Regions from separate parts of the Homo sapiens genome. Here all the other regions are linked to region 3. The links come from fine-mapping of genetic effects on gene expression. A gene starts in region 3. Each other region holds a variant in brackets. All regions are shown on one strand. Distances are from middle to middle. Region 1 overlaps RNF212 (ring finger protein 212). Region 2 overlaps LOC105374343 (a long non-coding RNA gene). Region 3 holds the start of FGFRL1 (fibroblast growth factor receptor like 1).

Evidence for each region.
Region 1: its variant is fine-mapped to the expression of FGFRL1 in fibroblasts (GTEx, PIP 0.95).
Region 2: its variant is fine-mapped to the expression of FGFRL1 in tibial nerve (GTEx, PIP 0.97).

What each region holds. Positions count from the first base shown.
Region 1 is chr4:1,107,252-1,111,442 of GRCh38, forward strand. It overlaps RNF212 (ring finger protein 212), which reads right to left. Exons shown (of 10, transcript NM_001131034.4): 2 at 1,092-1,153. Among named protein-coding and RNA genes, the nearest start is that of RNF212, 4.2 kb to the right of the region's middle. The variant AC/A (reference allele first, on the strand shown) is at 2,498.
Region 2 is chr4:1,048,955-1,053,145 of GRCh38, forward strand. LOC105374343 (a long non-coding RNA gene) reads left to right here. Exons shown (of 2, transcript XR_001741546.1): 2 at 2,261-2,552. Among named protein-coding and RNA genes, the nearest start is that of FGFRL1, 39 kb to the left of the region's middle. RefSeq lists an enhancer at 3,811-4,191. The variant C/G (reference allele first, on the strand shown) is at 2,083.
Region 3 is chr4:1,010,075-1,014,265 of GRCh38, forward strand. It overlaps FGFRL1 (fibroblast growth factor receptor like 1), which reads left to right and starts at 1,552. Exons shown (of 7, transcript NM_001004356.3): 1 at 1,552-1,880; 2 at 2,396-2,490. The coding sequence starts at 2,412. RefSeq lists enhancers at 1-507, 4,076-4,191 and silencers at 125-194, 1,025-1,544, 2,224-2,293.

The DNA of each region.
Region 1 (4,191 bases), 97 kb after region 3:
CATGTTAGCCAGGATGGTCTCGATCTCCTGACCTCATGATCCGCCTGCCTCAGCCTCCCAAAGTGCTGGGATTACAGGTGTGAGCCACTGCGCCTGGCCGAGAAGACACCATTTTTATGAAAAGGTAAATCACAATAACACACATAGAATAGGTACCAAACTCCTGGTCACTGTCATCTCTGGGAAACAGGATCTGGGGACTTACACTTTTTTTTTTTTTTTGAGACAGAGTCTCGCTCAGTCACCCAGGCTGGAGTGCAGTGGCGCCATCTCACTGCAGGCTCCGCCTCCCGGGTTCACGCATTCTCCTGCCTCAGCCTCCCAAGTAGCTGGGACTACAGGCGCCCACCACCACGCCCAACTAATTTTTTTGTATTTTTAGTAGAGATGGGGTTTCACTGAGTTGGCCAGGATGGTCTTGATCTCCTGATCTCGTGATCCGCCCATCTTGGCCTCCCAAAGTGCTGGGATTACAGGCATGAGCCATCACGCCCGGCAGGACTTACACATTTGCCATTATAATTTTCTGTACTATACGAATGTTGTGTAACTTTGTATTATGTTTGTAATCACAAAAAAACAACTATTATATTTAAATCATCAGACCAAATGCACATTTTGGAGATCAGGCAGAGAAAAGACCAATCATTTGTTTATACCAATAACAAGTTAAACTGAATATTTTATAGAGAGAACAAAAGGCATTGTTTTAAGCCTGCAGCAGTAATTGATTTTAAACTTACTTTATGAACAACACTCTTAATTATATATGACCCCTATACAAATCCAAACTCTATCACCCTCTTAAGGTGCCTGTATTGTGCTGCAGAAATCTATTTAACCCACTTTCATTTCCAGGAACACAGCACGATTCAACAACCTAGGAATAAGGTCAATCTATAGCTAAGAAAGTTTTAAAAATTAAGTTTTAAAAACTAAATCCTAACTGCATTTTGATTACTCAGATATCTTTGTTAACGGAGCAAAGTGACTGAAAATTTTAGACACCACAAATGACTAAAAATTAAATATCAAATTTAAAAGGAAATATGACTGTGATTAAGATGCAGATACGACACATTTCAACTTACATGCTTTGAAAGCAAAACTGTACGACAAGGAGCTTTACAAATCAAGCATTCATTCTTTTTACCTATAAAATAAAAATAGGCTTTATTATATTAGACTGACTACTACTTTTAAATATGTATACATGCAGACTTTACAATGTTTCTCCAAGAAATAGGCAGGATTGTATCACTTACAGGTTTTCATGTTCTGACAGGATGAGGCTGTGGGTACTGGTACAGTTGGAAGGATTTATAGAACTAACATTCTTTTCCCCTCTTTTGCAAATATGTACAAAAACAGTGACCATAAAGATCAACAACACTTAAGGCTAAGTCTATCCCAGGTATTTATTACAATTAGGCTTTTTTAAAATTAAAATTAAAAATTTTTTTTGAGACAAGGTCTTGTTCTGTTGCCCAGGCTGATCTGCAAGTGGCATGATCACAGCTCACTGCAGCCTTGACACCCCCGGGCTCAACAGTCTTCCCCTCTCAGCCTCCCTGAGTAGCTAGGACCACAGACGTGTGCCGCCACAGCCAGATAATTTTTAAATTTTTTTGTAGAGACAGGGTCTCACTATGTTGCCCACACTGGGCTCGAACTCCTGGGCTCAAACAATCCTCCCACCTCAGCCTCCCAAAGTGCTGGGATTGTAGGCGTGAGCCACTGTGCCTGGCCATAATTAGCCTTTTTTTTTTTTTTTGAGACAGAGTTTCACTCTGTCACCCAGGCGGGAGTGTAATGACGCGATCTTGGCTCACTGCAACCTCCACCTCCTGGGTTCAAGTGATTCTCATGCCTCAGGCTCCCAAGTGACTGGGCGTACAGGTGCCTGCCACCACACCAGGCTAATTTTTGTATTTTTAGTAGAGACAGGGTTTTGCCATGTTGGCCAGGCTGGTCTTGAACTCCTGACCTCAGGTGATCAGCCCACATCGGTCTCTCAAAGTGCTGGGATTATAGGCATGAGCCACCATGCCCAGCCTATGATTAGGCTTTATAGTGATATCTTAATCTAAAATTTTTAACTATTCAAAATGAACCTCAAGCTTGATTTTCTCACTAGTCAACTTGGAGCCCAGGGCTGACCAGGCACTATGAGCCTTCACACTCCTGTCATTCCAGGGAGGACATCAGGTCCAAACCTGAACAAGCCCGGTGGCTTTGTCCCCTCCTCTGGGCCAGTGCAGCTAAGAACTAGGAAAAAAACATCCCTTAAGTGAGAGGTGGATTCACAGACTTGAGGATTCCAACGCTGCTGAGTCAGCAACACTGCTGGGCAATCCTGCTTTTCCTGGGTATTTTCTGCCCCATTCCCCATGGGGCTGCTCAAACCAGGGCCCTCATATCATCTACTCAGAAGCAGCCCTGGCTCATGACCTACCTCAATTTCTCTGCCCTCTCCTCTAGACTGACCCACCACAGA[AC/A]AACCCACTTCACGCTACCTCCTTCCTTTCTGCCTTGGAGGCAGCATCTCTTCCAGCCCAAGCCCAGGCTTTCACTTGTGTATCCATACTCGCCTCAGTGTCCGCAGCTCCCAGCACACAGAATGGTGTCCTACTGTGGGGTGAGGGGGTCCCCTTCTAACAGCCTCCAGAATTGTCTCCTTTCCTCTCTTCTTCAAGTTGCCCTCATGCTAAAAACATCTACCCTTGACAGTAGGTCCCCTCCCTTCTAGCTCTTTAAGTGCAAATTCTGCAGCAAGAAAATTCCTCTTATGCACCATCACAGCTAGGAGTCATGCAGTAAAAGATTAACAGAGCCGACTCATAAAAATCGAAAAGTTCTTACAAGGGAGGAGGATTAACAGACATGACAGAGAGGAAATCACGTGCGGCCAAAAGACAAAGGGATTGATGCCTGATCTATAAATAGTGCTCACTAGTCAATTAGAAAGAAACACCTCAATAAAAGGCTATGAGGAGACCTGAATAGGCATAGGAAAAAATGCAAACAGCCAATAAACACACAAAATGAAGGTCAAGGTCACTAGTAAGAGACACCAAAGAGGAGAAAACAACAGGTGCTCACGTGTCACTACAGGGAATAGAAACAGGCACTTCCTTTGTGCCTGTTTGGGTCGCATTTGGGTCAGTTTTCATGTGCACATCCGCAGCCTAGCCACTCCACCCCGAAGAATATATTCCAAGGAAAAAAATCAAGTAAGAGAACAAGTGGTGTCTCATAGCAAAACGGCAGAAACTATGTTATGGTATGATAGCCAAAAGATGTATCATGCAACCTTAAGAATGATGATACAGACTTATTTTAACACGGAAGGAGGTCTATGTTTGAGTAAGTAATAAAAGCAGATTACTGAATGGTAGACACACTATTGCTTTTGTTTTAAAAATCTGCATCTATAGGAAATGCTTGGAAGGATATACACCAGAGCTAAACAAGGGCTTCCCTCTGAGTGACACACCACTGGACAGCTACAGAGCTACAGTCAAGGCTCTGCCCAGAGCCTCCACCCCTTTTCACCACTTTTTTGTGTGTCTTTGGATTTGGTGTGGTCCCGACATGCAGCATCTGTGGCTTTTTGGAGGAATGCACTCAGACTACTGGAATCTGTGTTGACCTCAGGCTTTAAGAGCTAGGCAAACCTGTGAATCTATACCTGCCCCAGGCCCTTAACCAGTCACCTGCCAACGCAGAGTATGCTGACCTCAAAAGCTATGACGCTCTGAGCCCTGTCTTCACACTTCCCAGCACCACGAAGGCACACGCGTCTCCATCATTCCTAACAATGTTATCTTCGGGGAACATTATCTTGGGTCACCAGTGCCCTCCTCACTGGTCCAATGGACACTTTCAAACACCAATTCCTTGACTTCACTGGGATGTCCAGTTCATCAACATCTCTTTTTTACCTGACATCTTCTTTACCTCCTTCAACAAATGCTCTTTCCAACAAGATAGTCTCTTCTAGTTTCCTTCACCTTTGGGGCTCTCCACACTCCAATATCTAGGATTATAGGATTATTATCCCGTATTAATCGCTCCCCAAATGTGTTCCTGGCTGTCTTGAGTTCCAGACCCACATGTGCAACTGCCTCTTGTCTTCCCCTGGATGGCTCTCACAGGATACAGGCCGTGTCCAGACATGAGCTCAGGGGC
Region 2 (4,191 bases), 39 kb after region 3:
AACCATCAGATCTCATGAGACTCACGCAGTATTGCAAGAACAGCATGGGGGAGCCACCCCATGATCCAGGCACCTCCACCTGCTCCCGCCCTTGATACGTGGGTACTATGGAGAGTACAATTCAAGGTGAGATTTGTGTGGGGACACAGCCAAACCCTGTCACTCAGCTTCCCTCGGGTTTCCTGCCCTCTTCTCCATCACTGCCCCCCAGCACAGCCAGCAGCTCCTGCCCAGGGTCCCGGGGCCCGGCCTCCCCTGTGGCCACAGATCCTGGCTCTCTGTCCCACCACTCAGGCAGGCGATGCTCAAATCCATCTCCTCACTGACGCCCTCCTCTGTGGCAGCTCTGAGCCTTGAACCTCCAACACCGTCCTGTCGGGACTGGCAGAACTCATCAGGGGAATCATTGGAACGCTAGTCACCCTTGCCCCTCCAGACCTCCCAACCTCTCCTCTCCCCTCCCTAGCACCCCCTCACCCCAGGCTGCCTGGGTCCTACACAGTCCCCAGCACTGAGACTGGCCTTCTGCTCCCCTCCCTCAGCCTTGCTCACCTCCTGGCTGTCCTGGGACAGCGTCTTAGGGTGCTGCCTGCTCATGACTTGCTCAGGGTCTTAGTCCCCTGCCTCCCCCTGCACCTGTGTCCTCGGTCACGTGTTCCGTCAGGGTGCTGGGCATGGCGCCGACATGGAAGCGCTGCCTGTCTGCTCCTCAGTGTGCCCCTTGCAGCTTGGCTGGCGAGTGCCGAAGGGGCGGAGGAAGCTGGTGCCCGGCAGGAGATGCAGCCCAGGAGGACCCCCGGGCCTGGCTCGTCGCCAAGGACGATGCAGTGGTGCTCATGGCTGCACTGTCTGTGACGGGAAGAGAGGAAGCCGCGGTGCCTCTCAGAGCGGAACACGCAGTCGTGGTTCACTTCTGTGAGTGAGCTACAAGAGCTCACGCCAAACAAAGGGGCCAGTCCATGGAACAACCTCAAGTGTGACCCCCCCTTTTTTTTTGAGACAGAGTCTTACTCTGTTGCCCAGGCTGGAGTGCAGTGGCGTGATCTTGGCTCACTGCAACCTCTGCCTCCCAGGTTCAAGTGATTCTCCCATCTTAGCCTCTCAAGTAGCTGGGATTCCAGGTGTGTGCCACCCACGCCTGGCTAATTTTTGTATTTTTAGTAGAGACGGGGTTTTGCCATGTTGGTCAGGCTAAGTGTGACCCCATTTTTATTAAAATCAAAACAAAGGACCTCAGTCCAACAAAATAGGAATTCTGAAAGACCAGAAACAGGTCTAGAAGGTGCTGTGCTATGAGTGGGGGAGCGCCTGAAGGTGGAGGCTGGGCCCAGCAGCTGGGGAGAGGCCTGGGGACGCCCCTCAGCCACTCCATCTCCAGGTGTCTGCCACAGTTGGGGCCACGAGGAATCGGGAGCCATGATGGTGGAGAGAAATAGTCAAATATTGATTTAGTACCTACTGGAGTAAAATGCTGATTACCCGTCAATGGATTAGGTGCAAATCACATCATTGGGCACCTTTGAATACAATGCATCGTAAGGCACAGCCCAGGCTGTGAAGCCACCCTGAGAAGTTCACAGTTGGTCTCATCGTTTTATGTCCACGCTGTGCATTTGCTTCTGAAGGACCATGGTGGGGGTCTGCACTACTTGTAGAAACAAGAATCCAGTCTAAAGACTTACCCTATGGCTCCGCGTGATCTCTAAATACGGCAGTTTCTGAGCGCCGCGGCCTCCGCCTCTGCGTGCTTTCCTCGCATGCTGAGTGTCTAACCTCGGCTTCTGGGTTTGCTGCTGCTGTTTCACAGACAGCACCCCACACAGGGCAGCTTGAGGATGCCCCGCTGCTTCCCTGGTTGTGGATAAGCCAGGCAGCTGGCGGATGGCGCGGCACGAGCGCTGGCTGTGCCTGCTGGGCACTGCCTTCACGCGCTCCCAATCCTGCCTCATCAGCCCAGGTCGTCGCTTTGCTGAGTTGCTCAACGCTTTCACACTCGGCGGGCGGCACTAAACAGACGCTTTCCTGGGGCAACAAACCCAGCCGGGCGCGGGCACCGCTCAGGCTCCCTTGGTCTAGCGCCCT[C/G]CAGTGTTGCCGGCCAGCACTGCTGCAGAGGCCGCGGGTCGCTCGGACGGGAATGGATGGAAATGTGGCTGAGGCCACTGTTGACCCGGAAGTGTTTTGCCTTTGTTTGTTAACCAGCTATGAAACTAAACATTCTCACACTGCCAGCAAAATGACCATTTTTTCATTTAATTTGCAGAGAACAGCATTATTAGTGGCAAACATCTTGAAGCAAACAAAATGTGGTCAAGTTGAGCTAACATCACATTATTTTCCTGAAGAATGCTGTGTGAACTCACGGAGTCCGTCTGCACTAATCAGTCCAGTGAACGGCTTCCTTCCTTCTGGCAGAGTTCCTTCTCCAGCATTTCCTCCAAATCCCACCCAGCATTAATGACATCTGTCTATAAACATTAGTTTTAGTCTCAAATATTTTTTCCCTCAAAACTCAGAAGCTTAGTGAGAAAATAAAAATCACAATGAGCAACGTGTCCACTCCCCTGGCACTTCTGGACTTCCCGTAACACACACAGAGAGCTCGAACCACATGTCTTGTTGGCATCTGCCTCCCTATGCTGTCACCACGAGGGCCTTGCTGTGCTGGTTGATGAGATGGACGTGGTGCTTAGACAGGCAGGTGATGTGGTTTGGCTGTGTCCCCACTCAAATCTCATCTTGAACTGTGGACGTGGTGCTTGGATGGGCAGGTGATGTGGTTTGGCTGTGTCCTCACCCAATCTCATCTTGAACTGTGGCTCCCACAATTCCCACATTGTGGAAGGGACCCGATGGGAGGTAACTGAATCATGTGGGCGGGTCTTTCCCATGCTGGTCTCACGAGAGTGAATAAGTCTCATGAGATCTGATGGTTTTATAGGAGCAGTTCCCTGCACACACTCTCTGCCTGCCACCATGTAAGATGTGCCTTTGCTCCTTCTTTGCCTTCCACCATGACTATGAGGCCTCCCCAGCCATGTGGGGCTGTGAGTCCATTTGACCTTTTTCCTTTATAAACTATCCCGTCTCAGTCGGGTATGTCAGCGTTAGAACAGACTAATACAGCAGGGAACCATTTTTTTCACCAAAAAAGGCAAAATTTAGTAAAACATCCAGACAGTGGCACAAAGCTATTCTGTGGATAGAGCCGATGGATAGCACTGCCGAGGCGGAACTCCCACCTGTCCTCACAGCAGCGCAGGGCCTGAGGGATGATGCCTGAGGCTGCACAGCGGTGGGGGACTCAGCCCAAGGTTATGTCTTGGCCCTGAATCACAGCTGCACCGTGAGTGGTGGAGGCAGCCCCCCACTGCCTGCAGCACAGCCCACGAGACACCACCGGGCAGGACAACTCACAGCAGGCGGTGGGGGGTGGGGGAAAGGCTTGGCTGCTGTACACCCACACGTGGGAGTGGCAGAGCCTGCAGAAAAGGTGCCGCCCACTTCTAGCCCAGGACGCGCATGAAGAGCTGAGGGCACTGCCCCTCCGTGGTCCTGCCCCCCTGCCAGTCTCTGCTGCTCCATTATGACCCCACGGCTGGCCCTGGGCTTTCACAGTCTTGTTTCACACAGCTCGTGCCTTCACACATCATCCCTCAGGCCCTGCGCTGCTGTTCCTGGGCTGAACGTGGGCTTTCATGCACTGCATGAGGACAGGCGGGAGTTCCGCCTCGGCAGTGCTGTCACCTCCATCCACGGAGTAAGCTTGTGCCACTGTCTGGATGTTTTACTAAATTGTGACTTTTCTGGTGACAATCACTGGAAAACAAAGAAAGGTGTGCTGAGGTGGGCCAGTGGCAAATCGAGGCGCAAGGGCTGCCCCTAGCGAATGTCTGGACAGAACCAGGTGCTGCAGGGTGGACCCTGGCCAAATGCAGGCTCAACTGTGAAAAACAACAACAATAAAGAACAGGAAATGCTACAAGTATGGCTTCAAGTTTATGTCTAGAAAGGTGAAGTGATGGAAGAAATTGCAATTTTAAAATCAGGGACCACTCATCAGCCCCCAGACAGAAGGGCCCGGGGCTGCCTGGAGAGAGGGTGAGGCAGTGGCGGGCAGCCCCGGGGCAATATTTCTTGGCAAAGTTTTCAAAGAAGTCCCCTAAGGAACACCACAGGCATGAGGACAGCCCC
Region 3 (4,191 bases):
CCAGCTGTCCGGGAAGTTCAGCGCCGCTCTCCCACGGGCGTGAGACCGCCCCACCCACCTGTCCGTGACTGCAGCTCCGGCCGGGAGGGCGGCAGGTGGGCCCCGGCGCTGCTGGCTCCTTGTGGGACAGGGCCGCGGCGGCGGCGCAGGACGTTCTCCCGCCGGGAGGACCACGCGGCGGTCCCTGGACCCTTCCCCGGGTGCACAGCGGCGGCTGCGCCAGCGGGGGCAGGATGGGCCGTCCGAGCGCACCTCCATCCGCCCTCGCGACGCCCACGCTGGCCCAGACGCGGGATTTGGGGTGGAGGACGCTGGGCTGGGAACCAGCACCTTGGGACGGCCGGGTAGTTCGGGCCTTGAGGAGTCCCACACCCTGACAGCTGGCGCCCCCCACGCCCCGCCTAGCTCTCCTCGGCCTGGGGACACCGGCTGCCAGGCCTCTCCAGTTTCAGCCTTTCCTGGGAGGACTTCCTGGAAGAGGGGGCTTCAGGCCCCAGAAAGAGAGGCTGCTCTGGGGGATGGAGGAGGTGCTGGGATGGTGACTCCGCGGAGTCGAGGGTGTGAGGCGGGATGTGGGCAGGCCGTGAGGTTTGTGTTGCAAGACTGGGAGGCAGGATGAGGGGAGGCCATGGGGCGGCTGGAGGTGCGGCCTGGGAGCCCTGCGTGCTGGGCCCTGGGCAGGGACGGCAGGCGAGGCGTGTGGAGGAAGAGCCGCGAAGAGCTGGGCGCTGTCTTCTCCACGCCTCCGTTTCTTCATCTGCTCCTGGGGCCGCCTGCCCGGTAGCGGAGATTGAATCGCATGTTGACGTCTATTACGATGATTAATGTTCTTGTCATTCCCGTCACTAGCAGGTGAGAGGCTGGGAGGCCTCAGGTGGGAACATACCTTTGGCCAAAGGCACCAGGTAACCCGAACGCCCCGGGGAGGACCCCTGCCTGCATCGCCGCGGCCGTCCCCCCCTACCCCGTCCCCAGCAGCTCCGGCTGGGCGAGGCCCTGCTTCTCCCTTCTGCTCCCGAAGACCCCCCGGGGCGCAGACCTGGAAGCCTCGAAGCTCCCGCGGCCGTCCAGTCCGCCCCCTTCTGAGCAACCAGAGAGCGGTCTGGGCCCGGCCCGGGGCTGCGCAGAGGTCAGACTGCCGCGGGCAGGGCCGGAGCCTGCTCTGGGGGTCGCGGAGGTGTCTCGAGAGTTGAGGACCCGACCCGGGCGCGCGCGGGCGCAGGTATGGGGAGGGCGCGGCGGCTCCTGGCCGGTCCTAGGAGCCTGCGGGGACCAAGGGCGCGCGGGCGGGGCCGGGGGCGCGGCGAGGCTCGGGTTGGGGCGGGGCGGGGGCGGGGGCGGGGCCGGACCCGGGGAAGCCGCCCGCCCGCGGGGACGTCCGCACCGCGAGGGTTAAGGCCGGGAGCCCGGCGGGGCGGGGGCGGTGTGCGCGCGCGGATTGGGGAAAAGTTTGGCGGCGGGGCGGGGCACGGGGGAGGGCTGACGCGCGCGGATTGGCCGGAAGTTGTGCCGGGGGCGGGTCGGGGGTCCGGGCTCGGCGCTCGCTCCGGGAGAGTTGACAAAGCCCCGCAGGGAAGGACGCCTCGCGGCGCGGCGCCCCGGGCCCCTCGCCCCGCCGCCCCGGGATCCCGGCCCCGGCCCCCGGCCCCGCGGACTCGCCCCCGCCGCCTGCCCGGTCCGGGACCCCGCGCCCCGAGCGCCCGAGCCCGGACCCCGACCCGGCCCGAGCCGCCCGCGCCCAGGTAGCGCCGCCCCGCCCCGAGACCGGGCCCGGGGGCGCGGGGCGGCGGGATGCGGCGCCCGGGGCGGCGATGACCGCGGAGCGCACGCCGCGGGCCCGGCCCTGACCCCGCCGCCCGCCCGCTGAGCCCCCCGCCGAGGTGAGCCCCCCGCGCGCGCGGCCGCGACCCCAGGTGGGCACACGGGGGAGGGCGGGGGTCCGGGGCGGGGGCGGGGAGGGGCGGGTTCGGGGCCCCAGCTGGGCACGGGTCATGCGCGCCGCCGCCGCTCCTGCGGGCCCCCGGCCTGCCCCGCCCCCGCCCCCGCGCCCCACGTGGGCCCCCCCCAGCGCAAATTTGTCCGCTAATGGCGCAGGCGATTATCTGCGGGGCGCTGAGTGTTGTGTGTCCTGCGGGCAGGGCCGGAGTTACAAGCGCCAGGAATCCAGACGGTGTTTGGAGAGGGGGGGCGGCGGGGGAGCCCGGTAATTAGTGTAAACCCTTTGTCTGCCTTTGATACCCACAGCTTCTCCCCGCTGCGGCTTCCTCCGCCTGGAGCGCGGGCGGGGAGGGCCTGTGGGGAGGGCGGCCAGACCCCTGATCCCCGCGGCCCGGGACCGGGGAGGGCGGTATCTCCCAGTTCCACGTGTTAGTGACGGCGCCCCCAATGTCCCCAGGTCCGGACAGGCCGAGATGACGCCGAGCCCCCTGTTGCTGCTCCTGCTGCCGCCGCTGCTGCTGGGGGCCTTCCCGCCGGCCGCCGCCGCCCGAGGTGAGTTCTGGCGCCCAGCCCGGCCAGCCTGGCCTCCGCCAGCGCCGCCCCCTTCCCGCCCGGCCCTGAACCCTGCCACAGTGCCCGCCTGGCACGCGCCATGCCCCGCCCCTGCCGCCCCGCTCGCCAGGCCCCCTTCCTTCCAGGGCCCCCTCACCCATGGGCTGTCCACAGCACCCACCGGGGCTCCCCTAGCTGGCTGGAGGGGTTCCCCTCATGCGTGCTTGCTGGCCAGGTGGGCTTTAGTCCTGGCTCCCCAGGACATGCTCCTGGTCTTGCAAACACTTTCATACTCGTACCTGCAGTCCAGGGCAGCTAATCACCTGTGGATTCTTGGGGAGTGGGCGGTTTGTGGCCACAGTGGACCCGATAAGGACTCTGGGAACCTGCAGAGACCCCCACGGAAGGCAGGATGGGCTATGGGAGATATTGGTAATATACTTGGTGTCTGGGACTGAAACTGACCCCCAGACCCCCAGTCCCCCAGCCGACCTAGCCGTGTGCCCTGGGCCTGCCCAGCTCTAGGCAGGCAGTGCCGGGCGGTTGTGTGGACAAGTCCCCAGAGCCGTGACGCACCCCAGGACTGCGTGCCTCTGGGCACACGCTGTGCTGGCCTGGTACGTGCTCATGGCACCGACATCTAAGTGGCAGCCATGCCCTGGGACCCAGCCCCAGCAAGGACATCCGGAGCCGATGGGTGACGTGTGCCCGCAGACTCATGCCCGCCATGTTCCAGGATCCGGGCACAGCGCTGGCTGCCCCCATGGCTAGGCGGGACCTGTGGCCAGGCCGGCCCTTTGGGCGTGTTGACCACTCAGGATTGTCCGCGCTGTGTCCACCAGTCCTGAGGCTTCGCACCCCTCCCCTGCCGCCCAGCAAGCGCGCCGCATCCAACCTGGCCTTATATGGGCACGTTCGGGTGCTGGGTGGCGGGCGGTGACCAGGTGGGCCTTATGCCACAGCACCCCCCCCTACCCCCCGCCTGCCCACATGGGCCTGGCTGAGCGGCTGCTCTGAGGGCCCGGCAGCGTCCTGGGCTGTGTGGGCACTCAGGCCATACTGGGCGAGCCCCTACCATGGCCAGCGGCCTGGACTTGCATTCTCTTTGATCTGTTTGGCCTCCCCAATCCCTACACCTGCCTGTCCTCTGGCCACTCGGCCAGGGAGGCTCTGGAGGCCTCTGTCCTGCCATGTTTCCTGGCTGGGGCTGAAGCTGACTGGTGGATGGCCACGGTCAGCCATGGCAGTGGGCGGCAGAGCCCGCCTCTTCGTGGAGACGCCCCAGCGGCCACCCCCTTCGCCTTCGTCCTCCTCAGCTGCGGCCTTGGGGCTGAGGATATCCAGCCCTGGCTTTGCGTGGCAAAGGCCCTGGCGGCACTGGGGAGCTGGGATCAAGCTGCTTTCCAAGGGCAGGGGCCTCTGTGGTTTGGGTGGAGGTGGGGAGGAGGTTCTTCCGGACTGTGCTGATTTTCCTAGCGTGGACTAGGGCGCGAGGTCCATCCAAGTGTGTTTCTCCTGCTCTGAACAGCCCACTGTGCACCTTCGTTAGGCCAAGGACCAGCATGCAGAGGGCTTGGGTTATTTTTGAAAAGCCATTTCCCGCTGGGTCATAAGTTCTGGAATCGGCACATCGCTACACTCAGATCATATTTTAAAAGTTCCTCTTTTCCCAAACTTTCACAATCTTGGTGGATTTGTCTT